Regions from separate parts of the Homo sapiens genome. Here regions 1, 2, 3, 4 and 6 are each reported to be linked to region 5. The links are microRNA targets in miRTarBase. Many come from high-throughput screens and were not tested one by one. Region 5 holds a microRNA gene; each other region holds the end of a gene's coding sequence.
What was found. Region 5 holds the annotated microRNA hsa-miR-3175 (CGGGGAGAGAACGCAGUGACGU, at 2,410-2,431, opposite strand). A microRNA usually pairs through its seed, bases 2 to 8, with sites in the 3' UTR of a target mRNA and lowers its output. Matches are read on the target gene's strand: a 7mer-m8 pairs with bases 2 to 8, a 7mer-A1 pairs with bases 2 to 7 and ends in A, and an 8mer does both.

Region 1 (5,066 bases), not on the chromosome of region 5:
TTTGACCCAAAATTTAGCTTAACTTTAGTTATTCTGACCTTGACCTCTGTCTTTATCCCAATTGTGTTTTTACCTGGGCTTTAACCCTCACCCAACTCATCCAGCTCAACTTTTAGTCATATTTCCTCATTCAACTGCAACTCTTACCCTGGTCCTACCTTAATCCCAGCTTGGATCCACCTCATAACTATAATCCCATTCTTAAAGTCCCAACCCAATCAGAATATGTACCCAAAACATCTCCAACCTGAACCCAGCCTTTCAAATCCAGCTGTGCCTTTAAACCCGAGGGCTTTCTTAAGGTCCTGCCTTCCAGAACTCTCTGGACCTTTCCTTCTTGACCATGTTCTCCCTGCTCCAGTGAGCTCAGAAGACCCATGCTCAAAAAAGAGTCACCACCCTCAGAGGCCATCTTGAAGCAGCGACCGTCTGACTTGGGGGCTGGGCTGGGCTGGGATTGGGGTGGGTCACTTGGGGTCTCTTTTCCTGCGTCGGAACTGACCCCTCATGTCCTTCTCTTGGCAGTGTCACCCAGCTCTGGATGGGCAGCGTGGCAAGTGCTGGTGTGTGGACCGGAAGACGGGGGTGAAGCTTCCGGGGGGCCTGGAGCCAAAGGGGGAGCTGGACTGCCACCAGCTGGCTGACAGCTTTCGAGAGTGAGGCCTGCCAGCAGGCCAGGGACTCAGCGTCCCCTGCTACTCCTGTGCTCTGGAGGCTGCAGAGCTGACCCAGAGTGGAGTCTGAGTCTGAGTCCTGTCTCTGCCTGCGGCCCAGAAGTTTCCCTCAAATGCGCGTGTGCACGTGTGCGTGTGCGTGCGTGTGTGTGTGTTTGTGAGCATGGGTGTGCCCTTGGGGTAAGCCAGAGCCTGGGGTGTTCTCTTTGGTGTTACACAGCCCAAGAGGACTGAGACTGGCACTTAGCCCAAGAGGTCTGAGCCCTGGTGTGTTTCCAGATCGATCCTGGATTCACTCACTCACTCATTCCTTCACTCATCCAGCCACCTAAAAACATTTACTGACCATGTACTACGTGCCAGCTCTAGTTTTCAGCCTTGGGAGGTTTTATTCTGACTTCCTCTGATTTTGGCATGTGGAGACACTCCTATAAGGAGAGTTCAAGCCTGTGGGAGTAGAAAAATCTCATTCCCAGAGTCAGAGGAGAAGAGACATGTACCTTGACCATCGTCCTTCCTCTCAAGCTAGCCAGAGGGTGGGAGCCTAAGGAAGCGTGGGGTAGCAGATGGAGTAATGGTCACGAGGTCCAGACCCACTCCCAAAGCTCAGACTTGCCAGGCTCCCTTTCTCTTCTTCCCCAGGTCCTTCCTTTAGGTCTGGTTGTTGCACCATCTGCTTGGTTGGCTGGCAGCTGAGAGCCCTGCTGTGGGAGAGCGAAGGGGGTCAAAGGAAGACTTGAAGCACAGAGGGCTAGGGAGGTGGGGTACATTTCTCTGAGCAGTCAGGGTGGGAAGAAAGAATGCAAGAGTGGACTGAATGTGCCTAATGGAGAAGACCCACGTGCTAGGGGATGAGGGGCTTCCTGGGTCCTGTTCCCTACCCCATTTGTGGTCACAGCCATGAAGTCACCGGGATGAACCTATCCTTCCAGTGGCTCGCTCCCTGTAGCTCTGCCTCCCTCTCCATATCTCCTTCCCCTACACCTCCCTCCCCACACCTCCCTACTCCCCTGGGCATCTTCTGGCTTGACTGGATGGAAGGAGACTTAGGAACCTACCAGTTGGCCATGATGTCTTTTCTTCTTTTTCTTTTTTTTAACAAAACAGAACAAAACCAAAAAATGTCCAGATGATTGTGTTTGGTTGATTTATTCTCAGTTAGACACAGGGATGCACCAGGGGTGGAGAGACGGGGACAGATTTTGGGAGGTGAGTATTGTGTGGTCCCCAGACCTGTCTGTATGGTAAGGGACTGCAGAAGGACGGCCAATCCACCTTCCTCTTCCCTGCAACGGAAGTTTCCTAGGGAACTCCTTGGCTTCAAAGTCTGCGCTGTCTTTACTTAGACTCCTGGTGGGCAAACAATGGCTCCTGAAAGGGGGGCATGACCAAGGACAGCCCTGTGGGGGCAGAGCTGTCTCTGGGATCAGCTGGCATGTGGGGCTGGGGCATTTCCTAGGGCATCGGGCGGACTGGGCTTGCATCTGGATTTGATTTATTAATTTGTTGGGGAGGGGCAGGGACACTGCCCTGCATTTGAGGAAAGGGGGTAGATGCTTCAGCACATTCCACAGCTCTGACTGCCGAGATCTCTGACTCGGGCATTGTGCTGAGATTGGATTCTGAGGTTGGGAGGGGTTGACTTTGCTGTAGACTCAGTGCCAGCCACAGCTTCAGAGATTGTGCTCACATGGTATGCCTGGACTCTTGGCCATCCTCCAAATGCCCCTCCCCTCCCACACCTCTGTGCCTTGTGTGTGTGTGTGCACGCATGTGTGTGGCAGGGGGTGGAGGGTCCGGGAGCAGAAGCTGATCTCTCGGTGGGGGCCTTTTTCCAGGAGGTTGCAGGCAGTCTGGAGACGCTGCATTGAGCCTGCCGCCCGCTGCGCGGGCTCCCTCCTATCTAGCTGTGTCCTGGATTCTCAGCCCCCTCCCCAGCTCCAGAGGCGCTTCCAGGCTTCTGATTTCACTGGGCCCCAACTTTGTTGGCACCTGTCCCGTCTGCATCTTGAGGCTGGGTCTGCAGTTCTGTCTCTCTAGCTCTGCCCCAGCAGCAAAGTCCTGCAGCCATCTGGTCTCCCTGAGGCACCACGGCGGCTGCCAGCAGCAGGAGATAAAGAACAAAGTGGTGTTGAGGGTTGCTTCCTCAGCCCCAGCCACTCTTCACAGAGTCCCCTCCTTCTGGAGCCCAGGCCAAGGCCTGTGGGGATGGGAGGTGGTGCACGCTGAAGATTAAGTTTTAGGTTTCAAGTTTAGGGAAAGTATCTCTTTCCCTAAGGCATCTTTTTCAACCCCCTTGTCTCTAGTCCCCTTCCCGATGCTCTAGGCTTGCACCCTTGGCAGTGGTGGTAGGAGGTCCTTTTTCTTTCATGGGCCTCCCAAAAAAGCCAAATTGGCTTGGAAGTAGCTGTGTGCATGGCCTGGGTGTAACTTCGTGACATACGTGCATTTGTGGAGTATGTGTGTGTGCATGCATGTGAGTATGACGCAGTGACACCTGAAACGTGAGTGTATGGGCTTTTTGGGGGTGTGCATGCCTGTTTGATGTGTGAAGGGAAGGTGTGCCATTTGTGTGGTGTGTATATGTGGTGTGTGCATTTGTGTGGTGTGCATTTGTGTGGTGTGTATATGTGGCGTGTGCATTTGTGTGGTGTGTATATGTGGCGTGTGCATTTGTGTGGTGTGCATTTGTGTGGTGTGTATATGTGGCATGTGAACACGTGTGCGATGTGAGGAGAGAGGGAGTGAGACATTCACGGAGCACGCCTGTCTCTCCTGGCTGTGGATGACTGGACTCTCGCTCATTAGGTGATCCCACCTCAGGGTTTGTGGGGAGATGTCTGACACTAGAGAATGAACATGTGCTTTGGGGAGAGGACTTTCACATCCCACAGAAACACTGCCCTGTCCAGGCTTCATGCCCACAGGATCCTGGAGCCAGGTCCTAAGTACCAAAAAGCAAATAAAAGCAGCTTCTTGTTTGCAGCTAGGCCCTCCCACCCTTGAAACGGTGGGAATACCCAAATGGTCTCTCTAGTTGCCACAGGGGTGTCAGCACCTCTGGGAGATGTGGGAGGGAGGTACTGGTGGCACCACTAAACCTGGATGGACTTGAGAACTGAAGTCCTTGAGTGCTCTGTCCTGCCTCCTGGAGACATGTCATTCCCTCCCACTGACTTGGAGCAGGGGATGGGACATCCCGCCTGCCAACAACCCCTAGCTGATCTACATCAAGCATTTGGTTTCCATTTCCCAGCTCACTAATAGAGATCAAGCCCTGATGTTGGCTGGGGGTTGGGGGCTGGGTTTTCCACTGGCAAGAAGGTGGGGTGGGAGTAGGGAGGAAAAATGGAGACTTGAACTGATTCCAGCCTTGGATTCAGGTTGGGGAATCTCTGGAGAGCTGGCCAAGCCTCTGGGCCCTGCTTGCTCTTCAGGCCCTGAAGTTCCAGCCACTGCCATCTCCCACCTCTTTCCAGGAAAAGGCTGGTTGTCCTAACCCCGCTGTACCCTGAGCCACATTCTGCCACCAAGCTGCTCCAGGAATGTTACGAGGCATGCAGGATTTGGGATGCCTGCTCGGTCCTCTTTCCCAGTGTGGGGGGCTGTTATGTGGCTGTGTGGTAAATGGCCTGAAGTGTTACCTGACAGAGATTCCCCCTGTATTCCAGGCCTCTCTGACCTCGAAAGAGAAAGTCAAGGTGATGTGGTGGAATGGAGCTGGGAGGCAGGCTGGCCTCTGGGATGTTGGGTCAGGACCGTGGGGCAGACTTCTGGGCACACCCATGGAGGAGCAGACACTGCTGCAGCCAACCAAGGGTCTAATTAGATCCTCACTTCCAGAGTGACCTGTCCCCTCTTGTATCTGAAGCTCCAGGGTTGGGGAGGGTGGGGTCAGGGAGTGTAAGTGGAGGGAGTAGCTGCAGATAATTAGAAACATGCTCTACCGAGTGAGCAGGCGCCACCAGGACCACCCCACCCCTCACCCCCACCCCCCACCTCTTTTCCTTAGGTCCCCAGCCCCCTTCCCTTCTACCTGGACAATTCCAGCCAAACTGGGGGAGGCGCTGGTGGAGCCTGGGAGCAGCAACTCGGTGGGATTGGCTTCCTAGGCCCTTACACAGTCTCTAAAGTGCAAACAACATATTTTTGCCATGCTATAGTATTTAATTACACATAAAAACAGAGCCATTAAGCTGAAATTAAACCCTTGTTGGAGTCACTTAATTCAGGGCATGACAAATTGCTTTCAGTGGAGGCGGCAGTGCAGTCCCCCAGGGAAAGATGGAGATTAGTGGCTTCCATGGCTGGCTGGGTCCCCTCCTTCTCTTGGTCCCCTTGCCAGCTCTAAATTCTGAAATTGGGGTCAGAACCCTTTTTCTGAAGACCACC
Region 2 (5,073 bases), not on the chromosome of region 5:
CTAGGAGACCTGGAGGGCCCGTGGGCTGCTGCTGACCTGCGGAACTCCATTGTTCCCACTTCCTAACTGCACCCTGCAGAACCAGTGCTTTAGAGTGGATGGGTGGGGGCTCCTCTCTCCTCTGCCTGTGATCTCAAGCTCAGGCCCCAGAGCGGAGGCAAAGTCTCTACCGTGCCTGCTTCCTACGCAGGAAACCAGGAATGAGCCCAGCACCCCTCCAGGCTCCCTCCCAGCCCTCCGCACCCCCTCGGGATTTTCTGTCAGGCTTCAGTCCTGAGGACCCCAGACCTTCAGGGACTCTGGGGGGCCGGGCAGCCCTCAGGGTGGGGGCCGGGCACTCCCTGGCAGCCTCCGGCTCGTGACTCACACTGCTCGCCAGCAGGGCTCTGGTGACTGGGCTGACAGCAGGTGTGTGGGCTGCAAGTATATTTGGTCCACACCCGGCTGGCTGCGACAGCCGCCCCCTCCGCTTTACCTCACATCTGTGCCAGGCGCAGCTGCCGCCAGGCTGTGTGCACTCCACGCTGTCCCATTGGTTCCTGCTCTCTTCCCCACCCCTTTCCTTCCTGAGAGGAACCCCAGGGATGAGCGCTCTTTCCCCCGACCCCTCTCTCCCCTGCAGCTGTCCCTGAAGTGTCGAGCACCAGAGGTGTCCCAGCACGTGTACCAGGCCTACGAGACCATCCTCAAGAACTGAGACCCCGGCCAGCGCCCACCCCAGCCTTCTGCCCGCCCCATCGAGGAGGCCCCTCGGGGGCAGCACATCTTCCTCCTCGCAGGAGGGACCAGGCGGGGCTCCAGGCCACTCAGTGGGCTCCCTGGTCCTGATGGCAGAACCCACCCGATCCCTGGGGTAGGGCACCACCCCCTCCTGGGGTGAGAGCGCAGTGCACTCCCGTGCTCTGGGACACCCCTGCTCCTGTGGCTGTGATGTGGGGTTAAGTGAGGTGGGGACCAAAGGAAACAGAGCCAGAGCAGCCACAGAAGCTGTGCCTGAAGGGTGAGTGTGGAGCTTGCCCCTCCGGCTCACAGCCCCGGCAGCCCCTGGCTCCTTGGTCTCTCCGGTTGGTGTTAAAGGGCCCTCCACTGCCACCTCTCATGGGATGGACCCTGCCAACCTGGCCTGGGTGTGCAGGGAGGGGTTCCCCTTGGTACCAGGAGAGCTGCTCACTTAGGGCCTGGGGCTCAAGGAGCTGTAGGTGCCGGCAGAGGGGCAGAGCTAGGCTGGGAGGAGCCCAGGGCCTGCACCACCCACTTGCAACCACCAGGCTGGTGCCCTGCAGCTGTGCCAGTTGGGCCACAGCCTCCCGAGTGCTGACCCACATGGTCAAGACCAGGCAGAAGCTCCCAGAGCCCCTGTCTCGGGCTCCCCACCGACTGGCAGCTGCACTATCCCCAACTCCCCACTTCTGCCCCAAGGGTGGTCACTGCCTGTGATACATTCCTCAGTGTCGCCTCTGAGCCCAGGCCTCCTGCCACAAAGACTGGGCCGAGAGATGGGGCTGGGTAAGCGGGTGCGCCTCCTGTTTGGGTTTCTTCGGGGTTTCTCTGTAGTGTCTGCTGCCCTCCTCCTGGCCTCCCAGGTTTCAGTTGTGTCTGACAGAGCATTAGGTTTTCCTGTTACTGCTGTGTAATAATAAAGAAAGATTCGGCTTTTGGCAATCACGGACACTTTTTTCCCCTCCACCGAATGTCAGGATTGAAAGCTGCCTCCGAGTGGTTGGGGATGGTTTTCTGACCCTACGGTAACTAGATCTAATATATATCATCAGAAAATATATATTGTATGTTTACTCTTATTTTCAGAAAGAGAAAATGAATAAAAATGATGACATCAAGTGTGTCCCCAGCCAGTGTGTCAGGCCCGAGGCTCTTCTGGGCAGGAGTCCCGGGCTGCAGGGACCCCAGGGTCAAAGGCTCCAGTGGTATGTGCGGCAGCAGCCCCTCCCGTGGCACTCTGAGGACAGCGCCTTCCCTCCATCCTATCCTTGGCAAACTGACTGCTGCGGCCTGCTGCTGTCCCTGACCCCTCTCCTGCCATTGATCCCACCTCCCCCAGAGCTGACAATGCCTCGCCTTGTGATGCTGGCCAGAAGGCTGGGCTCCCCTTGTGGTTTTCCCCAGCTCCCTGCCATCTGGGAGGCTCCAGGGGCCGTGGGAGATCCCCTGATCAGGGGCAGCCGTGGGAGAGGGGGTGGGCGTGTGGACCAGGCCAGCCGCCACCGAGGACACCTTGTGTGGCCCCAGTCCTGGCACTGGCCTGGCTCCCAGTGAGGGTGGCCAGACCCTGGGCAGGGCTTCATCGGCTGAGCTGCCTCCTGGCTGGTGGGCCTCAGCCTGCTTCTGAGGGAGGAGCAGCCCAGGTGTCCCTCAGCCTGTTTCAGCTCCAGCCGCTCCCTCGTGTTCTGTCTGCACTTAGTCCCCCCACATGCTGCCCACCTCACACACACCGCTGCCTTCCTGGCTGCTGGAAGCTGGGTGAGACAGCCTGCCCTCTTGCAGGGCATCACAGGGGCACCTGGCCCTCCACTGCCCCACCTCTGACCTCTGTGGTGTCACTGTGCTGCCCTGGGGACCCCAGGGTCAAGGGCTCGAGCTGTGTGCCCAGCTGTGGCCCCTCCAAAGAGTCCAGAACCAACCAAGGCCCTTGACTGTGCAACCCTGGTTCTTGCCTCGCCTGAGAGTCTCTGCCCAAATGCATCTGGAGTCCCTGCCCTGCCATGGAACTAGAGGTTGGTGAGCCCTTAATGAGAGGGACTCTCACCCTGCCGTGTCGTCTGCCTCCCCTGAGCCCAATACCTTCGCACTCTGCCTGGGAAGCAGCTGCACGGGCCACCACGCCCATGGCCTGCCAGCTCAGCCATTCAGGGAGCTTGGCACTTCACCTCCCCACCCCTCCATTGCAAGGTCGGAAGAGTGCAAGTGTGGGATCGCTGTCCCCACCGGAGGCCCAGGACAAGCCACCCGGGTGAGGAGAGCTGGCAAGAAAGGAGGACCATCCCTAGACACCTTGTGTTTGAATGAGTCTGCTCAAGCCTCAGGTGATTGTGAGCGGTGCCTCACTACAGTTGGGCCCCTCTTTCACCCCCACAGTGCTCAGCATAAGGCGACCCAGCATATACTGGACTAAGCATATAATGCGGCTTAGTTTACATGCAGGGAAACTGAGGCAGGGAGGGCCTTCATGCTCCCAGTCCCCCACACTACTGCATCAGGAGAATAGACACACAGGATGCTACTTTGGGCCCCTGCCTTTAGGAAGAGTACCTCAGGGCATAGCCAGTCTGTGCCCTTCAGCTTCCCTGTCCCTCCCTCACCTCTGAGGGTCATCACAGGCCGCCTCCCTCCTGCTCATGTGGCACTTCCTGGTCCTGACACGCTCAGGCCTCCCCGTCTCGCCTCTTGGAGGCCTTGGCATCCCGCAGCTTGGGGAACTTCCCAGACTTTTCTTGGGAAGATTCCCAAGTGTCTTGAACCTTCCCAGCCAATCAGGAAATCCAACAACAGCAACCAGTTATTTCTGGAGGGTCCAACACATACCCAAGGGCCGATGGGCTCCCCTGTGCACCAGACACTGCCAAGGCTGTTGCGGGACCTGGTTTTACGTTGTTTAATTTTCAGCTAGTGGTTTGCGTTCATTTTTGTGGAGCAAGTAATTCAGGACCATGGTGAGGTCAGCCAGCCAGAGAATAAAGTTCTCCCTCCCACCCCATCCTCAGTCCTTAATTTTCCTCCCTTGAAGGCAGACATTGTCACTAGATTTTGATTTTCCTCCAGGGATATTCTGCACATGTGTATAAGCAAATCCATATAGAGTTTTACTAAACGAATGATGGCCTACCTAGACACTGCTAGCACATCGCTTCTCTGACCTGACAGTCGTTTCTGGAGCTCTTTCCCTATCAGTAGGAGCAGACCGCCTCAGGCTTCCTTGTGTGAATGGGCCACCGTTAGCCAGTCCCTGCTGCGGGGCATTCAGGCTGTTTCTGCACCCTAAGCAATGCTGCAGCGAATACTTCCCACATACACCCTCCTGCCTGGGCAGGGATGTAGCTGTAGGATCTAGCCCCGGAACTGCTGAACCAGAGGGTATACCCAAGATGCATTTTCTATTTTAGTTCTTGTTTTGAAAAGGTAACACATTCACATGGCTCAAAATCTAAAGACAAGACAGATGTAAAAACCTACCCCTTTCCCTCATTTTCCTCCCCAAAGGAAACCACGTAATTATCCAAAGAGACTTGGCAGTGCCTAATTGGATTTTTTTCCCTTCTTGTGTGGAAATAGTAGCACGGAATACATGTTGGGCTTATATCGCAGAGGTTTTTCCATTATTAGCCCATTACAGAGAGTGTCCTCATGCCTTTTTTTTATTTTTTCATTTTTAAATTTTTATTTCTTTTTTGAGATGGAGTCTCACTCTGACGCCCAGGCTGGCGTTCAGTGGTATGATCTCAGCTCACTGCAACCTCTGCCTCCCAGGCTGGCGTTCAATGGTATGATCTCAGCTCACTGCAACCTCTGCCTCCCAGGCTCAAGTGTTCCTCCTGCCTTAGCCTCCCAAGTAGCTGGGATTACAGGCGCCCGCCACCACGCTTGGCTAATTTTTGTATTTTTAGTAGAGACAGATTTTCGCCATGTTGGCCAGGCTGGTCTTGAACTCCTGACCTCAGGTGATCTGCCCGCCTCTGCCTCCTAAAGTTCTGGGATTACAGACGTGAGCCACTGCACCCAGCTGCCTTTTTTTTTTTTTTTTTTTTTTTTTTTTTGAGACAGAGCCTTGCTCTGTCGCCCAGGCTGGAGTGCAGTGGTGTAATCTCAGCTCACTGCAACCTCCGCCTCCCAGACCCAAGTGATTCTCCTGCCTCAGCCTCCCAAGTAGCCGGGATTACAGGAGCACACCACCATACCCGGCTAATTATTTTTTGTATTTTTATTAGAGATGGGGTTTCACCATGTTGGCTAGGCTGGTCTTGAACTCCTGACCTCAGGTGATCCGCCCTCCTTGGCCTCCCAAATTGTTGGGATTACAGGCGTAAGCCATCGCACCTGGCCTTTTTTCTCTTCTTCTTT
Region 3 (5,073 bases), not on the chromosome of region 5:
CCATACAGAAGGGGCCATTCTTCCCCCCAAGAACAGAGCTTCAGTGTCTGGCCACGGGCAGCCGGGCCCCTGCTACTTCTAGTCTGGGTTGGAAGAACAAAGCCCCTCCTCCCCCCTTCCCTGGGCAGAAGGGAAAGGGGGTGAGGCCCGGGGAAGAGATGGTGGGGCTGGGCGCCAGCTGAAGCCATGGAGGAACCCAGGAAGGGGCTGGGTGCCAAGCTGACGCCCCAGCCAAAGCCTTCGCTCTGGGACAGGCCGACTCAGTCAGGCCACAGAGCAGGAACTCTGCAGGGTCTGCTTAAAGGTTCCCCTTCCCTAGGAGCTCCTGCCAGGGTACTTGGCAAGGGGGAGGGCCCTTGGACCCAGCCCTCAACCTTCTTTCACCTCATCTTTGGATCTAGAACTTTCCATCCACCTTCTTCTTTCAAGGCCCTCCTTTGCTGCTTCAGGGTTAGGGTTTCAGGATTCCTGGGGTCAAATCCTGGCAAACAGTCAGGTGGACCACATGAGATTCAGGGAGCACCACATGGGCTCCCCATGCCCCCATGTGTCCCCACATTCCAAGAAGCCCCTCCCTGGTCACTGGCCCAAAAGGCAAGCCAGTACCTAAAAGCCACATTGGAGTGGCCCAGGGAGAGGGAGCGGTTCAGCTAATCCCATGATGGTCTGTTCCCATCCCATCCCTCCAGCCTGAGCAGTAGAACCAGCCTGCCCTCTGATCCCCAAAGGAATGTAAAAAGGAGCCCCAGCAGGCTCAGGAGGTGGGAACCAGGGGTGGGTGGCCAGGGCATCAGTGCTACCTCTTCTCAGTCTGAGGCCCCTACTTCCCCAGGAGCTCCCTCCCTCCTCAGGACCCCCTCACCCCATCCTCTGACAACCCACAACCCTCTCCTCTCTGCCAGGAGAACAGTCGTGAAGCCCTGGCAGAGGCAGCCTTGGAGAGCCCCAGGCCAGCCCTGGTGAGATCCGCCTCCAGTGACACCAGCGAGGAGGTAGGCCAGCCATGCGGGGGGTGGCAACTGGGTTACAGGAAGCCGATTCCCAGGCCCCACTTGTTCCTGGCACACCAGCCTGCCTTTGAGGTCACATGCTGAGCCGCATTCTGTTCTTGTGACCTGGCTTCCCTGGGCACGGCCCCAACGGAGCCACCTCACCAAGGCTGAGGACCAGGGAGCCTAATGAGGGACTGACTCCCAACTTCCTGCCCCCACTTCTCTTTACAGCTGAATTCCCAAGACAGCCCCCCAAAACAGGACTCCACAGCGCCCTCGTCTACCTCCTCCTCCGACCCCATCCTAGACTTCAACATCTCCCTGGCCATGGCCAAAGAGAGGGCCCACCAGAAACGCAGCAGCAAACGGGCCCCGCAGATGGACTGGAGCAAGAAAAACGAACTCTTCAGCAACCTCTGAGCGCCCTGCTGCCACCCAGTGACTGGCAGGGCCGAGCCAGCATTCCACCCCACCTTTTTCCTTCTCCCCAATTACTCCCCTGAATCAATGTACAAATCAGCACCCACATCCCCTTTCTTGACAAATGATTTTTCTAGAGAACTATGTTCTTCCCTGACTTTAGGGAAGGTGAATGTGTTCCCGTCCTCCCGCAGTCAGAAAGGAGACTCTGCCTCCCTCCTCCTCACTGAGTGCCTCATCCTACCGGGTGTCCCTTTGCCACCCTGCCTGGGACATCGCTGGAACCTGCACCATGCCAGGATCATGGGACCAGGCGAGAGGGCACCCTCCCTTCCTCCCCCATGTGATAAATGGGTCCAGGGCTGATCAAAGAACTCTGACTGCAGAACTGCCGCTCTCAGTGGACAGGGCATCTGTTACCCTGAGACCTGTGGCAGACACGTCTTGTTTTCATTTGATTTTTGTTAAGAGTGCAGTATTGCAGAGTCTAGAGGAATTTTTGTTTCCTTGATTAACATGATTTTCCTGGTTGTTACATCCAGGGCATGGCAGTGGCCTCAGCCTTAAACTTTTGTTCCTACTCCCACCCTCAGCGAACTGGGCAGCACGGGGAGGGTTTGGCTACCCCTGCCCATCCCTGAGCCAGGTACCACCATTGTAAGGAAACACTTTCAGAAATTCAGCTGGTTCCTCCAAACCCTTCAGCCTCCGTGTGTTCCTTGGAAGTTTTGTCCTCTGGCCTTGGACCCCTTATAGGTAGAAATTGAGAAATGGTAAGCCAAGGTGGTCTTTGGCTGGGAGGGTGGGGTACACTGGAGGGAGGGCCATCAAGGGCTCCCTGTGACCCCAAGCCTGGGTAGCTTTAGCTAGAGGGCCTAGCTGCAGTCCTGTAGGAAGGAAGATGCATGCACCCAGCCGGGTATTCAGCTTGGTGTGGTCAGTGTGCCTGTGTGCTGGGCTGCAAGCACCGATTGTGGGCTGGGGACCCCTTGTCTAACGGGGATATTTACAAGGGGAAGTGGGAGCTCAGACCAACGTTCTCAGAGGACTCTGGGAGGTTCCTTTAATTCCAGAAGCGTGGAAAGTGTGTCCCAGGATGGAGCTGGGTTTGGAATGTGAGGACTTGGCTTTACTCTTTCTGCCTATAGCCAGTGGGGTGCAGAATTCCCAGGGGCAGGCTGGGCTGGTGCCAGATCCTCTATCTTATCTGGCCATTGTGACCTGATTGGAGGGCAAGTGTCCAGTGCCAGGGGAAAACAAACCGGTCCACTGAGCCCGGGGACATGCTGTGTGGCTAGCTGGGGTGGAAGGGACTGTTCAAGGGCAAGGTGCCCTGCCCCCAACAAAAGACCCAGGTCCCTGATACCTTTGGCACCTGAAGCCTGATCTGGAGGTCCAGGAAGGTGGCTTGCAAGAGCTAGGCTGCAGAGCCGGGAGGTTCCGGGCAGGTGCTCAGGAGGAAGGTGCCCCCAGGCTAGTCTCCACCCAACCCAAAGGGACACCTCTCAGAAAATAGGCTCCTGGGCTGAGGGGAATGAGTAAAGCAGGTAGATCTGGAATCAGGGAGTGGACAGTGTCCCCCAGGCCAGTCACTATCTGGCCATCTCCTGCTCCTTGTCAGAGGAACCATCCAAAACCCTTACCACAGCAGTGCCCTGCTCAGCTGACCTGCCCCCACCCCACCCTTGCTTCTACCCTTTGGCCCCTGACAGATTCCCCTCCACAGGGGTCGTGGAGGGCCCCTCCCTATCTCACCTGCTGGGTGGGGAAGCCCTGGGGGACCTTTGACTCTTCATTAACCTGAAGACTGGTGGAAGGAATGGGTGGCCCCAAGGGAACTCTCATTGCTGAGGTACACATGGTACGAAGGGAGCCACGGCAAGCAACGCGTTCGTTTTATAATGTTTGTTTTATACTGAGGCATGTTTTCGGTTCCAGTTGTTCACATGCAGTCTGCTGTGAGACTCCAAGATCAAGGGTGCTGGGAGGCCTTAGGCAAGTCACCTTACTTATCTAAGACTGTTTCCCCACCTGGAAGATGCCCTACAAGCCTCCTGTGGCTGTGTTTAGAAAGCATGCCCGGCCTTTCTTGACAGCCAGCCACCCCAGATGATGGCAGGGCAAGGAAGACTGTTAGGAGTCAGAGTGCTCCCCTCAGGTGGAAGGAAACTGGGCCAACTCTACTTTGTAAGCCATAGGGTGCCAGGTAGCCCGGCCACCCTGAGCCTGTGCCTCCACTGCCCCCGCGTGGCCAGTCAGGTGCAGCTGCTCCCAGAGATGGAGGGTGAGGAACAGACGTGGGAGCACCAGAGGGACAGAGCTGATGGCCTGACGCTCTCTTCAGGAGGGCACCCCCAAGGGGCCTCTGCTTCCTCAGTGCCCCCTGAGCTTTATCAGCAGAGGGGTGTTTTCCAGCCACAAGGAGCTGTATCTAACACTAATGCCTTTAAACTCAAGACTGGCTCCAGGAGAGAGGAGGACGGACACTAGGTTGAGGGGCCAGGCCACACTCACTCTGGACCACCTGTTGTTCCCGGGTCAAGTTCCCAGGGTCACACCAGCCTGCCTCTGCAGGACAAGAGGACCAAGCTGCCCTTGAGTGGACACTGTGAGGCTGGGGCTCGTGGTAGCTCTTCACATGGACCAAACGGGAAAATCAGGAAAGCTGGTAGTGCCTGGAGCTTCACTCCCAGCCAGGGCAGCACCTCTGGCCTCTAAGGAGAAAGGCCTGTCCACTCCCATCCATGTTCCAGGTCCCCCTGCACCTCCAGCTCCCACCTTCATCCCGACATCTCCCATGGATCCCTGCCCTCCATTCCAGCTTCCTAGAGTCTGGGTCTGGGTTTGGCCGGGAGGGGAGAAGGGAACTGGCCCTGGCCCTGGAGTCTGCTCAGCCACACCACTAGCTGGAGGGAGGCCACAGCAAGCCCCGCCAGAGTCTGAAGGGCCTCGAAAGGTGATTCCCAGCCTGGGCCAGGAGCACTCTCCCAGTGCAGGGCTCTGGTCTTTGAAGTGTATGGGCCCAACACCCTGCTCACACAGAGTGGCTGCCCACAAGGCCCAGCCATCAGCAGGGCTCTGCCGACCCATCTCTGTAAGGCTTCTCTTCCACGTGGCTGGTCTGCTCCAGAAGCCACTGATGCTCGGACTCACTCACTGTCAGTCTGAGGGTCACCTCCTGAAAAACACTGCTCGTAGCCACCTACGTGAGCCAGAGAGAACAAAGCCTGCTAAGTTACAGTATTACCACCACCAGGCCCACCACCCAGGTCTAAGCCCCACTCTGCCCCAGGACATCCTTACCTGCTCAAAGTGAAGTTTCTGGAACATCCGGATGCTTGGTTCATTTCCTTGCCCAATTTTAGCCTCAAACTTGGTCAGACCTAGCGTGGTCACTCCTCGCAGAGGAGATGAGACAGGGGCAAGTAAGGAGGCGCCTGCCCCCACCCTCCTGTCCCAAGCTGCAGAGGAGGAACCTTCACCTGCCCCCAACCCTCACACCTGAACAAAGTTCACCTGGGGCCTGCCCACTTCCCGCATTGTCTGCTCACACTTTCTTACCGTAAGACAGCATCGCGAGAACGGCCTCAGTGCCAAGGCCCTTACCCCTGCAGCTGGGCTCTAGGAGAGACAACAGGAGCGGCGCTGACGCCGTGTGCCA
Region 4 (5,073 bases), not on the chromosome of region 5:
GAAGGGCGGGAGTGTCTGATGCTCCTTGGTTTCTGAAGTTCGTGGGGGAAGTTCATGTGCTGAGATTCTTTCTCTTGGCTGACCAAAGTCCTGAACACTTGACAATTTTAATCTTTTAACATTGAAACTTGTATGATCTCAGCGTCTGTGAGCTCAAGGATCACAGTTTCTTACACCGGGAAAAACACCTTGATGTCTCTTGCAGAGAGAAGAAAGCTGAGGCAAGATTTAAGATTGTGGAAGAAAGAGCCTGGCTTACGAATTTTTAAAAACTATGTGTGTAAGTACTGACTTCTATTCCGTGAATACATCTGTATAAATGTGGTTTATGTATGTATAGAATATACAGTGTGAACTCCTGAGAGTTCTGTGTGGTTCTACACAGAACCATGTATAGGGGAGGCCTGGATGTTTATGAGAAACTTGTTTCTCTCATTGAGCTCTGACATCCCACCACATTCCAGAGGGGTCTGCAACAACCAAAGAGCAACACACGACTTGTGTCAATCTTGTCACTGACCATCACAAGTTTCCTAGAGAGTACAGGTCTCAGAGCGTTTACCCTAAAGACATCAAGAACTTGGCCGGGTGGGGTGGCTCAAGCCTGCAATCCCAGCACTTTGGGAGGCTGAGGCGGGTGGATCACGAGGTCAGGAGATCGAGACCATCCTGGCTAACATGGTGAAACCTCGTCTCTACTAAAAATACAAAAAAATTAGCCGGGCATGGTGGCGGGCTTGTAGTCCCAGCTACTCGGGAGGCTGAGGCAGGAGAATAGCGTGAACCCAGGAGGTGGAGCTTGCAGTGAGCGGAGATTGCACCACTGCCCTCCAGCCTGGCAACAGAGCGAGGCTCCGTCTCAAAAAAAAAAAAAAAAAAAAAAAGACATCAAGAACAAATCTAAGGGAGAGATGTTTTAAACTGGAATGAATGTGCAAGCTCAGAAACATGCTAACATTGAGGACAGCTATGATAACACTGTGGTGTGTCTCTCAGTGTTGAAATTAAACCAGTTCTCTGGAACACAATGTTGGCACCATAAAACTATTCCTGTATCAGAGATAACTTAAAAGTGGAATTCCACTGCAGAATTCTGAAGTCCCTACTCATTTTAGTGTATCAGGTGATGATTCATACAGATTGGGGCTTTGCATCAGGTTTCTAGGGTCAGATTCCTACTCCCAGTGCACACCAGCTGTGAGTCTCTGATCCAGTTACTTGACTCCCCCTGCCTCAGTTTACTTCTCTGTAAAATGACAATAACACAATGCTTATTTCACAGGGCAGTTGTGAGGATTAAATAATTCACATCAAGCACTTAGACCAGCACCTGTCAGAGTAGTATACACGCAAAGTATACTTAGCTATTTTTCTTCCTGCTCTTATTATGGTTTGTTATAGAAAAGAAAGGTGCAAATGGTCTGAAAGGTGTAAACTTTAAAAAGCTCTGTTGGCTTCAGGATCTTGTTCCCTATTTTAATTTCTAGATTTTGTTGCCACCAGTTACACAGTCAGATCTTGTACACAGGTTCACCCTAGCTCCCACAAGCTTAGCGTTCCAATAATGGAACACTAGGTGTAAAAGGGCTAAATAAGCCAATACATTTCAAAGTGCCTGCATCTTCATCCTCCACATAGTAGGTGCTCAGACACATTGGCCAAGGCAAACACAGAATGTGCCTGAGAAACACAAGGTTAACTAATATGAGGGCCCCTCAATAGATCATAAGAAGCACTTCTAAATGATACAGAATACACATTCAAAGATTTGTTGACACAGGGCAGGACAATTTCTCACGTTTTACATGTACAGAGTTTATTTGTTGTTTTTACTTAAAAAGATACCCAACTGAAATATTACTAATGATTAAAAACAAATTCAGAGTTAATTACAAATTCAGTTGAAACAAAATTTCAGTTTGGATTAAATTTACACTGTGAATTACAATGAAGTGTCACTCAATTGCAAAATGATTTCCATTCATACAGCATTTTGTTTTTCATAAATTTTGACCTCTGACCAAAGAAAACACAGCTTTTTGGGTAACATTCATGAAAACATTGAAGCCTATAATATAAATTTTTATTACCACTTTCAATAGTCATTAATATAAAAAGTTAACAAATTTAAACAACAAAGTTTAAGCTGGGGAGAGCCCCCTCGGGGGGCATCGGTCAAGCTGCTGAACCCCCTGCTCACCGCCAGCAGCAGGTGCAACCTGGGAGTGCGTGAATGCGTCCACCCACAGGAGGAGCGCTCCTCATGCTCTGACAGTTCTGCGACAAGCACCAGTTTCAAATCAAACCTAGTATAACAAGTACTCCATAAAACGTGTGCTAAGGCAAAGAAATAAGCACATTTGGATAATACAAATATCCAGAAACAATGGAAAAGAAAGGCTTCTATTAGAGAACAGAAGGCTTAGCATATATGAGTGCGCAATGATCCTGATAGCTACGGATACTGTTTTTATTTACAGTGGCAAAAACTTTATTACTACAGAAGGTCACTGACAGACAATCTACTGGCTGGTTAATTGTTTCAAATTTGATTCTCTATCAAGCAAAAATATCACACAACCTGATCAACACACACACAAACGCTTCAGAAATCACTTAACTATCAAGATGGAGCAGACTATGAGAGCTATTTATAAAACACGAATATTTGCATGGAACTGCTTAATATCAGAAAATTCCAAGAACTGTCAAAGGCAGCATTTGAAAATAGTTCTGACACCTTAAGATGGAATTACCATCCAGAAAGCCACTACTTTGAAAGGAGATCTGAGCTATGAGGATGGTCATCATGGATGAAAAGGTCGATTTTCCTAATCATTATCAGGACGCATTTACAAAAAGCTGTAAAACTTCAAAGGAGAAAAGTATTTTCCTTAAAAAACCATAAAAAACCAAAAACAAAAAAAGGAAAAAAAAATAAATTAGTTTGTTGCAAGTTATATAAAGACAACAGGTTACTGTAACCCTCATTTTCTTCTATTTGTTTTTTCTGATCTGCAGGGGTGTGAATTTCATCTATCATTCCAAGTTTAAGAAGGAATCAGGGACTTCTCTAAAAAGCACCAGAGAGTGAGCTGATTTATCAAGTAAACAATCACACTCACTTCTTAAAAGACACAACTACAAACGCCATAGAAAGCGGTGACTGATGGAGCCTGCAGGACCCTGTGGGCGAGGACAACTGGGCTCGCCTGGACGTTTTCTCTTTTGCAGTCCCCACAACACTGCCCTGTTCAAGGGCAAACAAAAGGCAGTGCCAGTCAGACCTGTGGTAGGGCTGGAGCGACCTCTTTTGTATAAATTGATTGGAAAGAAAGAGTTAACTGTTTTGGTAAGAATGAAAATTTAAACACAGAAGTATGTAAGAATGATACTAGCTTTTACATTACTTGTAAAACATTTTACAATCATTATTTTAAAAACAAAAATACTCAAAAGGGCAACAGCACTGGGTAAGAAGCTCTTTCATTTTAATATTACACATGCAAATGCTAACTGAAACTTACAAGAATAGGCCCATGGTAAGCGGATCGATTTTTAAGATAAGACTTTCAGAATTTCACTGGAAGGTGGGAAATCAATAGGAAAGGGATCTACAAGGATGAAGGCCAAAACTCAACCCCCAAAACCTGGTTATCCCAGATATGCTAATGGACAGTATGTGCTAATGTGTTGTGAGAAAACCGGAATGTTTCATCTTAATTATGGAGGGGAACGCCAGGTTGAATGAAGCCTGTATGAACGTACTACATTCATGGAAACCATTATGAAAAGTACACAACCTGTAGGTGGCATTTCTTCAAGCACTCTAAGGGGAAAATGACTTATGTAACAGAACAAAATAAATGAGGCTAAGGTTTGGGGCTCATTCTAGCTATACTTCTAATTATAATTTACTCTGGGTGACATCTGAAATAAAGATACACATACCTCTTTAGAGGCCATCCAATCTCTTTAGAAGACAATTCAACTACAAAAAGAGCCTAACTGGCCATTTTAATATATCAGGAACAAAGAGAAGTAAGATTCTGTATACAATGTCTGCTTCAAAAAGATTACGTGTATTAAAAAATCAAGAAGAAAAAATCTTAACATTCAATGATAACTTCATGGTCATTTAAAAGTCCAGGACTTAAAAAGGTCTGTCTGTGTAACACGTCTTGGAAAGGGTATGAAGGTTCATCCTCACAGTCACTCAACAGCTGTCTTCTACCAGAACCTGACCACAGGATGTGGCCGCACCATCAGCTGAATCTTCATTTTCACAAGTGACACAGGCCTCCAAAAAAGAACAAAGCAGGCGAGTTACTTGATGTCAATGTCACCTAAAGAGTTTTAAAACAGTAAAAGGCTGGTCACATGTTTCTAAATCCCCAACTTATTCATGTCTGAAAATATTTCATTATAGTTCATTCTTTATTATTATTATAACTATTTTTATTTTTTTTTTTGAGACAGAGTCTTGCGGTGTCACCCAGGCTGGAATGCAGTGGTGCGATCTCAGCTCACTGCAACCTCCGCCTCCCAGGTTCAAGCGATTCTCTTGCCTCAGCCTCCCAAGTAGCTGGGACCACAGGTGCCCACCACCGCGCCCAGCTAATTTTTGTTTTTTAGTAGAGATAGGGTTTCATTATGTTGGCCAGGCTGGTCTTGAACCCCTGACCTCGTGATCCGCCCACCTTGGCCTCCCAAACTGCTGAGATTACAGGTAGTAGACACCGCGCCCAGCCTCATTCTTTATTATTAAAAGGCAAATGACAAATTGTTTAAATACAGTCATGTGCCACATGACGTTTCGGTCAAAAACAGACTGCATATATAATGGTGGTCTTGTAAGATTATCCTACCACATTTTTATGGTACCTTTTCTATGTTTAGATACACAAGTAACACTGTGTTACAACGGCCTACAGTATTCAGGACAGTAACAGCTGTACAGGTTTGTAGCCTAGGATCAAAAGGCTGTCCCATAGGGCCTAGGAGTGATTGTAGCAAGCTACTCCACTGAGGTTTGTATGAGTACACTCTAGGACGCTTGCACAAAACATCCCC
Region 5 (5,073 bases):
GCCACAAAGTTACTTTCACCTGTACACAAAATACTCTTAGAGGAATTTTTTTTTAAGTTTCTTTGTTCAAGTGACACCATATCAAGAAAGCCAAGTTCTTCAAGGAAGCAAAGTTCTAAGGTTACCAAGAAGCAGCTAAAAACTAAAGGATCTTAAAAAAAAAAAAAAAAAAAAGATGGCTCATAGCAAGAAAAAATTTAATGGCTGACACAGAGCAGTCACTCAATTTTTATACCAGAAACAAACTTAGTGTATCAAATTTTATGGGAGAAATGATAGGAGTTTGGAAATACCAGGTGGTCTCAGGAGGTCTCTCATAACTGTCAGTTGTTTTATTTGGGGGTAAGGGAGAGTAAACTAATGATAAAATCTGTGAGTTTTAGTTAAAATTCAAATAAACTTCCAGATTCACTCCTCAAGCAATAACTTGCTACAACTGTCACAACCAAAAGTCTTTATCAAAAATATTATTTGCCCACCTTCCTCTGCTGACTTAATCTTTACAAAGATACTAACTCCCTAACGGCCAAATACTAGTTGGAAAGTGCATATTTTAAACGGCAAGGATACAGAGAGAGAGAGAGAAAGAGAGAGAAATCGATCAACACTCTTTTCTTGCTGCTTGATGCTATTCCCCACATCAAAGGGAAAAAAAGTAGAAGGCTCAACAAACATACCTAAGAACACTGGTTCTATAAAAAACTTAATTGGCTGCAAGATTGTCAACAGTTAATAGGTAAATTGTTATATCATGGTATGCATTTTAACTCATAATGGTATTTAGGTTAAAATATCTTAAATAACAGAATAGTTCATATCCTCTTCAAAAATAATTAACTGCAATGTTGACTACTTTGACCCCAGTTTTAGGAATTGAAAGGTATTCAGCAAATACTATTAACACAACTAATTAGAATTCAGTCTCTACACAAAAAGGGAGGTGAGATTATTACTTTCGTTCTTGTGGCAGGTATACTTTAAGTTGGAAGCTACAGTTAAACGTTCATCAAGTTCTATAAACACTTAATTCTCTGTTAGCATTTTATACGCAATATACATTTGAGCATATAATTTTAAAATCAGGTACAAATTATTTGATGAACACTTCTCTGTAACAGAAAAAGCAATTTCAGCTAGTTTTCACAAACTATCCAAATAATTCTTCCCAAAGAACCTAGATTATGAGAACCTACAAAACTCACTATCATAGTGAATTCTAACTTTCACAGACTGTATTCAGAAACTTGACATACGCCCAAGCAAATATCACCTGCACTGAAGGGTCAACATCTCCTTTGAAGTAACACACTTTACTAAAATAACTCTAAACTATGGCTAACTACAGGACAGCCTACTCCAACTGCTAAAAAAACTCTAGTATGGCAGGAAAAAAACTTTGTCCACAGTAGATAAATCCACTGAATTTCTTGCTTGCTTAAATTCAGTATGTGTAATTTAATTATTAAGACATCGTTGCTGAACGATGAAGTTTTAACCAGAAATCCTTGTAAAGGTTTCCAAACAAGGCAAATCAGTGAGCATAAACCCAACCGTTTACCGGGACTCAGAATTCCCGAAATGGAGGCCTAGGGAAGATAATTGCGAAGATTTGGCCAAGTGACCCCACTATCAGCCAAGCTGTCAGTCACCCTGCATTAGCAAGTGCTATTAACACTTAAAAGAGTAGTTTTCTGACATTTACTTACATAGTAATGGTTGCCTAACGCTGTATTCTGCCACTTTTTAATGTTATTGAACGTGAAATTTTCTATTTTCTACTAAACTATCCCACTGTGAATCTTAAATATATAGTACTTAGCACATACTGACCTGAGTTTTTCTCCATCAAATGCCAACTGAGAAAATGTACGGTACCAAGTAAAAACGCATGGGGACAAGTTCAAATAATCTTCCCTTTGTTTATGAGCCATGTATTAAACAGCTGTTAACACCCGTCAAGAGGTTTTCACTAAAATAAAAGTATCCGCCTCTGACACTCAAACGTTTTGGTCAATTGTAACAAAATTAAACCCACTCATCTCTTCACACTGAACGGGGGCGGGGAGAAGGGACGCTAAGGTATGAAAAGGGAAAATGTAAAACTGGGCAAATTTTCTATTTTAAGATTTCCAAATAGTGCCTTTAAAATTTATAAATAGTGCCTGCACTTTTTCTCCAAAAGCAGCCGCTTCTCAAAGAGGATAAACCATTCCCGGAAATGGGCAAAAGAACACACTACAGGGTGCGGACCGCTACAGGCAAGGGCGGACAAGACTGCCAGGAGCAAACGCGTCCAGGAAAGAAGCCGCCCACCGGAAAGTCCCAACTAGAGTTCCCTTCCTTTTCCCCTCGGCGTGCGGCTCCCTGGGTAGGGGGAGGAGAAAGCGCCCGACATGCGCACGCGGCCAGACGTCACTGCGTTCTCTCCCCGCCCCCCAGGGGAGCCGTCTGACGTCACGGGGCGGAGGCTGCCGAAGGCGCCGCCGTTGACCCTGCTGTTACCAGGCGCGCGCACAGCCAATCAGCACCCCGCGCCGGCGCCGGCCGGCCTTTGAACTCGGCACGGCAACTTCCTGCTGTTTGGCGAGTACACAGTGCAATGCAGTATGTCTGTCAGCGCTGCGGCACAAAGGAACAGCCATTTTGTGACTGAGCTGGACCTGCATCAAGATGCCAGGGGCTCAAAGAGCTGCTGCGTGCCCTATCGAACTGCCTTTTATGTCGGCACCAGAGTTCCCCAGAAGAGCAGAGAGGGGGAAGGAAATAGGCTTTGGTATTTCAGATTTCTATTAGTTTAGATTCAGTCTTCTCCAAAATCCCGTTTTTTAATGTATTATCAGCGTCATAAAATGGCTGCCAGTTAAACTGCCTGTTCTAGTACACAAGTAACTGCATTATGCCATTTCTAATCATCCCCAGCCTTTTAGAATATCTGGTAAAGCGCCCCTGAAAATTGTAGGATTTACCCGCACCTCAGGTTATAAAAATAAATCTGGCTCAAAGGCAGACGATTTGGAGATAAATTTAATAAACTCGTTCAATTCTTAAGATAAATTGCTAACGTGGTGCCGTGGAGAACACACTGAACTCTTTGTGTGCACACAGTCCCGTTTTCATTCTTTGATGTTACTTAAGTTATCCCCAAGCTGCAAATTATTCAGATAAAAAGTATGGTATACTTCTCGTATGTCCATCATTAGAACTTTGTTTTAAATACTTAGAAATTTTACAAATATCAATCAAATGTTTTTAAAATCGCGTTTTTTAAAGTTTTTAATTTTCAAAAATCGTGATAAAGTATAACAGACTTTAGCATTAACTTCAAATTAAAATACAAACTTATATAACCACTATTAACTACTGCACTATTTCCAAAAACAGGGTATTACCAGATTTACCTAAACTTGCACTCATTCTTTCCAGATACTAAAGTAATTCTCAGACCAAAGTTTACTTGACCTGCAAACTCATTTCCTCTTCTGTGGCTCAGGCTGCAAAGGTGATTTTCGTAGTATTCCCTAAACACTATACTTTGGGCAATAAAAACTCTGATGGCAGAAGGAACCAAGTACTAATTACAGGGACAGTTCAGCTCAGTAGAAGTAATATTAATCTACCACATTAAAACACCACTAACATTCTACAGCTGCACATTTTAAAAGGAAGTGATGTCATAATTATGTACATGTATTAAGATATGAAATTTAGGGTAACTAATTTAAAAGTAACTATCTTCTTTTCAAAGAGTCTTAAATATTTTTGGACATCCATCAGGTATATGATTCAAAGTATACTTGACAAACCAATTTAAAAGTACAGTCAGTACATGCTTCATGTACAGCTGTAACCTCCACTACCAGTAAGCAAATGCCTGACAACTTCCAGGTAGTTTTCCAGGTGAGAGTAAAAATACTGAAAGAATACCAACACTGCTCAATTTTTTAGAATTAGAAAGCACAGTCTGATCAATGATGTTAACCACAAACCTTGCATAAGAGAGCCAAAACCCATGTGAGACCTATGCAAATGATACACTCAAGGGAGCAACAATTTTAGTGCTGAATCTTTAATAATTTGCCAAATATATCTGGAGGTTCTCATTTCTTCAAATTGTCATTACTTTCCAGAAAAAAACAGCTTAGGATGAGTAAAAAACTTTTCTGTCCTCAATTTAATCTAGTAATTTACATGGGCAATTCAATTAAGACAGCACTACAAACTGGGTGACAACTCAATGCAAAAAAATTTGGTAACTTATTTTCTAAAGCAAGGCTCAATATGCTTTCAGTCAAATAAAATAAATAGAATTCAGCATATTAGTAACACATCATGTTCAAAACTTTCAAATTCACTAGCCTAATAGAAAAGTGTATTATTTATAAAAATTAGAAAAGTAAAAATTGGGAAGGAAAACCACATAATGAATCACATCCTTGTTAAACTGCATGATTTAAAATTTATAATATGAAAATGCATAAAGAACACATCAAAAAATGCATTCATATGTACTTTTAAAAATTAATATACAGAGGTCATACAACAAAAACATCTTAGAGGCTTTATTACTTCATCACTAACAAGGTACTCCAAGGAATGTGAAACAGATCATGATTTGCACAAACAGTACATTTTTAAGCTTCAGAAGATAAAGCATTCCAGACGACTCTGTCGAAATACATCAATAAATTTAAAGCAGCTACATCTAAATTGTGAGGATAAAATACATCTACCAACAGGAAATCAATGTCTTAAGCATACAAATGCAAACCTTAAAATAATTTAAATGTAAAATATACAACTGCAAATATTAATCACAGTAACAAACACAAAATAGAAGTATATATTAAGAGTATTCCAGGATTTCTGTTATTACAGATTTGATTTCATAAATGCAGGAACTCTAACCATCAAGTAAAGGTTTTGATAAATCACATCAAAATTTCCTAAAATGTCAAGTGTATCAAAAGAAATATAAAGTCACATAAAAATATAAACTGAGAGGCATCAGTCAAAGGGTCCTTTAAGTGATTTTGTTTTTAAATGTACATTTTTTCATTCATATAACTTTCTGAT
Region 6 (5,073 bases), not on the chromosome of region 5:
TAAGGGACAGAGTCTAACTTTACCATCTGATTCATGGTCTTAACATCATGCATGGTAGTTTCCAATGACTCTGAGAGACAAAAGGTTTAAAAGGTACACTAAAACATTAAAAATTCAACAAACTTTATATATCTGAAGGTACACAGAATATTTAGATGCTGGGGCAGAGTGTGGCTAGAATACATATGTCCCTTTTACCAAGAGAAGAGATCACTGCAAAGATTATTCCAGTACTCCAAAATGCTTTTTTGCCGTAAAAATGTGGTTTAGCAAGCAAAAGAAGTAAGAAAAACAGAGATACGAAAGGGAATATATTATGTAGTTATTTTGAGTGTCTTTATTTCTTATTTTTATTTTGGAGACAGGGTCTACCTCTGTCACCCAGGCTGGAGTGCAGTGGCACAATATGGCTCACTGCAGCCTCAAACTCCTGGACTCAAGCGATCCTCCCACCTCAGCCTCCTGAATAGCTGGGACTACTGGCATGTGCCACTGCACCCAGTTAATTTTTGAGTGTCTATTAAAAAGAGAAATATAAAATCCGGATGTCTTCAAAGGTTCCAAAATTGTCACCATGAATTGTTTGTAATTCTGTCTTTTTCCCTCCCCTCTTGTTAGATCTCAGTCTGTGGTAGAAGCTGGGACCCTGAAACATGAGGAGAAGGGAGAGAATGAGAACACCCAGCCACTCCTGGCTCTGGACTGAACCCTGAGTCACCCCAATGCTCCTGCACACTGGCCTTCAGTGGTATCAGCCACCCAGGAAGCACATGCACAACTGACCCATGCAGACACGTGTGTTCTGCTTGACACAAGGTCCTCCACTCCTGAACCCCTGCAGTGACTGTCACCAGCCATCGGTCTGAGCAGCCAAAGTTGGACAAAGACTTGAGAGATGCTTTTTTTTTCCCCCAGTGAGGGGACTGGAGGATGATGCAAGGCATTTATGTAAAAAAGATTCTCCCTCCTTTCATATTTATTGTAGTAAATTGAAAAAATAAAGACTAAATTTGATGGACACACTGCATTAGGACAAGAATTTTTCTGAGGTATCACACAGGGACCCTCTCCAGTTTTTGAAAATTAAGTGCATTTCCAAGTAAATGTATCAGAGTTAAACTGTACAGACACCACTGTCAAGTTTCATGTAGTACAAAGCCCTGAGACAATAGTATCTCCAGTAATTTCCATTCTTACTGAATTATTTCCTTTGACCTCATCACCAGCATCGAATTGTTCAGCCTAAGAGCATGTTCTCATAGGTCTGGGTATTTGCAAAGTTTGCTTATTTTGATGATATCCTGCAAAAAATTATTTTGATGTCACATCTCTTGTCAGGTCACTAGCTGACTGTCATGAGCTGACGTTAAAGGAAGACACATGGACGTGAAATACGATTATTTCATCTGAGCAATGTGAGTTACCACAGGCAGCTCAAAAGCCCATTAGTGCAGCATGTGTCTGCAGAGGAGATGTCTCATGAAAATCACATGTCAGTGATTAATGAATCCATTCCAGTTGCCTCAACTGGGTCACTACAGCAAAGAAAAGTGCTATCAAACCATTTACCCTTGCCCCCACAACCCTCCTGCAACCATTAAAGATGTGGAGAAAGACCATGGTTGTTGCTGAGAGGGTAAATATTCAATCATGGAGCATGACCCATATGGATGGCTAAATATGCAAGTACTGAAGTAAGAGAAGACTAGAAATGCAGGATGAAATGTCAAAGGTCATTTTATTTACCTAGTCTCCTTAGAAATGGAGTCCCCAACTACTCATTCAAAAGAAATCAGACATAAAATAAACAGACATCATATATGATATCCTTACTTGTGCCATGTTTTCCAAGACCAGTGCATATTTTTAGACATCTCTTATTCGCCCAGCCATCTGCATGACATGGGTATTTATTAGTATTACCAGTTGGTGCTCAAAGTCAAACAAAAATATTTTAGTTAATAATGGGCAGTAAAATATGATTTTACATTATTTTAAATATTTGGGAGAGTTAATTTGTTAGCTAAATAATTCAAGGGAAAGAGATTATTCAACTGGTCATAATCACCCCTGATAATATTATTACTAATCTTAATTATTTATTACATCATCTCTTTCTCAATGGATCTAATGTTTTAATTTTTTCCCCTATTGGTAGAGAACAATAACAGAAGTAATTTTTATATTATACACTTGGAGAAATAAAGTTGAAACAGAATTAAAAATATTTCTCAAACAACTGTATCACAATATAAATTAAACTAATTCATTTTTGTGTAGACATACGAAATCACAAAAATAATAACACTGAAATAATTCTACCAATGCAGTGATGGAAACACTTTTCTTATGTACCAAGACATAGATAGGTAAGAGAAATAAAGAATTGAAGTGAATTAGAAAATCCATTTTATTGCTTGGGTTTAAAATAGTTGTGGGATACAAGTATTTACAATGCTATTGGAGTCAATTATTGACAACACTTTGCAACAGTAATACCATTTCTAGCTTTTCAATTGGCAATACTTAGAACCTTACTGTAGTGACCTGATTTTAAATACCATATTATATTTACTAAGTTAAGAGCTAGTTTTTACTCTCTTCCATAATTTCATTACATGAATGTAAGATGATGGCTCAAAAATGACGACTTATAGTTTGAATTTATGTGTATGCAATATACATATGAGAACCAAATTCAACAAGTGACATGAATGTTACTACATGAACATTGAATTGTATTGCCCTTGTCAGTTATTTCCTCTGTTCAATAAATACTGAAGGTCACAAACACCTTTTTACTTTTCAAGAGTTTGCCTTCTCTTCTCGATTTTAGTAATTAATTTGGATATTTTTCCTCCCATGCCTCTTCATCTGATTTAGTGGGATGTTTTCAATACCAGCAAAACAAAAGAACAGGAAAAGTATTTTGCAAACTCATCTACTGGAAGCTAATCTCCTTAAGGTCAAGCAAAAAGGGTCAATTTCAATTTCAAAGAGCTGTTCTTTAAATGAGATAAAGAAAGTCTCCTTTTGTTTTTAGATGGAAAAGAAAGCACAAGTTTTTTCTACCTGTGAATGAACTTTGGTGACCTATATGTGCCATTCATGCAGCATTTTTGTTCATATTGGCTTAGAATTCAGTGCATGAATATCATTACATTCTTATATCTAACATTCCTAGTTAGCTTTGATTCAAAATATACAAAATCTGATACATGAATACTTTGCTAGATTAATGACTTGATCATCTTTGGAATGAGTAGGCAAGACGATTTTTACCTATTATTTCTATGTTGTGGGTAATGTTAAAACTAAATACAGATGATAATAATTGCTATTTCACAGTGATGTTTAAAATGGCAGAGATTTCTCAAGCCAGAGAGATGGGACAGTCTTCCAAACTCTTTCATCAAAAAGGAAAGTAATCTGGACCTCCTACGCCCAAGAAAAACATCCTGGCATTCTTGGTAACCTTTTACTCTGCCATCCTTAATCTTTCTACAGAATTGTAGCAGAAATCATCTCCAAGACTGAAGAGCTGGCTTCCTGACATTCACATGGATCTACCATAGGCAAAGACACTGTGTTCCCAGCCCTTGCCTCATGGATGGCAAAGCCGCCAGGAGCCAGACACCCTAGCAGCCACCTATCCACCCAACCCTGAAAGAACATAGTTTTATTTCCGTGAACTATACTTTTTCCCCAGAAGCTCTAATAATTGGCATTAAAAAAATTTGCATCTGGGATTTTTATAACAATATAAAATAATTCCATGCTCTTTTTTCGGTGTGAAAAGTTCCTCTTTGAAAGAAATAGGATTTTGTCAATATCTCCACCACTAGCATAGTGAGAAGAGGATCTCAATCAAGATAAAAAAAACCAAACGATTTGAGAGTTGGGATGGGTACAGTTCATAGACACTGACATAATGAGCTCTTTCTTTTTTGTTAGGAAAATAAAACTGCTTTTTTCATGAGTATCTTTTACTAAGAAGAATTAAAAGAGGGAAGTCTGAGTTCCCCAGTAATGCTACCATTAAATAGCTAGAAGTAAAGCATTTATACAGCTTGTCATTAAAATAAACAAAAATGTAGTGGTACATGATGACAAAATAGTCTAGCTACACTAGAAAAATATAACTGCATAGAAAAATTACAAACTAAAGCAATCCATTCACAGTTTCTACATATGTTCTCATTATACATTGAATTAGACCTATTCTATGTGGAAAAAATATCTTTGGCTGGTAAGGTAGAAGCTATCAAATGTTCACCTTAAATACTGGCAGAAGACCAGTGCTGTCATGAGATGACACACAGCAGGGTGTTTCCTAAATGAATTGCAGCGAGGCAAATATTCCCTTTAGTGTCTTCTGACCCTAGGAGGAGGCTTTGAATTACTCGGGCTGCAAGTCAAGGGAATTGACTCTTGGTGTTCGAAATTCTATCCTCACACCCAAGGAGATGGAACCAGAAAGGCAGCCTCTCTCCAGAGTTTCCCAAGCTTGCATGAATTCATGCTAAATTGCTGGAAGGCTGCGTCTCTGCTGTGGTGTCAGTTCCGGATGCCACACATCCACGATGAATATCAGCCGGAAAGATGAGGCATCCTGCCATACCTCGTGCTCAAAGGAGTCATCAAAGATGAGCACCTTGCCTTCCTCCCAGGTCCTGCAGCAGAAAGACAAGGATTCCTGAATATAGTTTTGTGTGGTTCAGATGTCTGAGGATCGATTCCTGTCCATGTGCGAGAACTACCTTTGGTAACAACCTTTGGGACATAACCAAATAACTAGAACATCAAGCCCAAGTTTATTCTTCCCTTGATGATTAGGAAAGAATTTCAGAAATCTTGCTATGAACATCAGTTTTCATTGCTCAGTGCTGGAGATGTACAAACAACAGAGGATTTGTGATGAAGACATATTGGTCTCATTACATGCCTTGCAATTATTCTGTATATTATTACATGTCTTGCAATTATTCTGGTTTAGACATATGGGCAGTGACTGGGTCTCAGGCATCTCTATGCCTCTCAAGACACTTCCAATCAATTGTCTTTTCAGCTCAC

Region 1: miRTarBase lists IGFBP4 as a target of hsa-miR-3175. Seed matches in the 3' UTR shown: 7mer-A1 at 1,663-1,669.
Region 2: miRTarBase lists AP1B1 as a target of hsa-miR-3175. Seed matches in the 3' UTR shown: 7mer-A1 at 1,367-1,373 and 7mer-A1 at 1,400-1,406.
Region 3: miRTarBase lists NAT9 as a target of hsa-miR-3175. Seed matches in the 3' UTR shown: 7mer-m8 at 4,267-4,273.
Region 4: the mRNA of PER3 is a reported target of hsa-miR-3175. Seed matches in the 3' UTR shown: 8mer at 2,148-2,155.
Region 6: miRTarBase lists ASPH as a target of hsa-miR-3175. The part of its 3' UTR that is shown has no 7-base or 8-base seed match.

Annotation. Positions count from the first base shown.
Region 1 is chr17:40,455,924-40,460,989 of GRCh38, forward strand. It overlaps IGFBP4 (insulin like growth factor binding protein 4), which reads left to right. Exons shown (of 4, transcript NM_001552.3): 4 at 526-1,802. The coding sequence ends at 660. Among named protein-coding and RNA genes, the nearest start is that of IGFBP4, 15 kb to the left of the region's middle.
Region 2 is chr22:29,324,445-29,329,517 of GRCh38, reverse strand. It overlaps AP1B1 (adaptor related protein complex 1 subunit beta 1), which reads left to right. Exons shown (of 23, transcript NM_001127.4): 23 at 623-1,838. The coding sequence ends at 697. Among named protein-coding and RNA genes, the nearest start is that of SNORD125, 6.3 kb to the left of the region's middle.
Region 3 is chr17:74,767,245-74,772,317 of GRCh38, forward strand. NAT9 (N-acetyltransferase 9) reads right to left here. Exons shown (of 7, transcript NM_015654.5): 5 at 4,974-5,033; 6 at 4,716-4,810; 7 at 3,285-4,614. The coding sequence ends at 4,480. It overlaps NHERF1 (NHERF family PDZ scaffold protein 1), which reads left to right. Exons shown (of 6, transcript NM_004252.5): 5 at 903-992; 6 at 1,224-2,109. The coding sequence ends at 1,412. Among named protein-coding and RNA genes, the nearest start is that of NAT9, 6.6 kb to the right of the region's middle. RefSeq lists a silencer at 3,661-3,760.
Region 4 is chr1:7,841,899-7,846,971 of GRCh38, reverse strand. It overlaps PER3 (period circadian regulator 3), which reads right to left. Exons shown (of 22, transcript NM_001377275.1): 22 at 1,795-4,300. The coding sequence ends at 4,217. Among named protein-coding and RNA genes, the nearest start is that of UTS2, 8.6 kb to the left of the region's middle.
Region 5 is chr15:92,901,766-92,906,838 of GRCh38, reverse strand. MIR3175 (microRNA 3175) reads right to left here and starts at 2,440; the gene lies at 2,364-2,440. All of the region lies in intron 2 of CHD2 (chromodomain helicase DNA binding protein 2), which reads right to left. RefSeq lists enhancers at 2,147-2,386, 2,667-2,846, 1,708-2,907 and a silencer at 2,547-2,596.
Region 6 is chr8:61,498,837-61,503,909 of GRCh38, forward strand. It overlaps ASPH (aspartate beta-hydroxylase), which reads right to left. Exons shown (of 25, transcript NM_004318.4): 25 at 1,720-4,673. The coding sequence ends at 4,523. It overlaps CLVS1 (clavesin 1), which reads left to right. Exons shown (of 6, transcript NM_173519.3): 6 at 619-2,793. The coding sequence ends at 706. Among named protein-coding and RNA genes, the nearest start is that of ASPH, 210 kb to the right of the region's middle.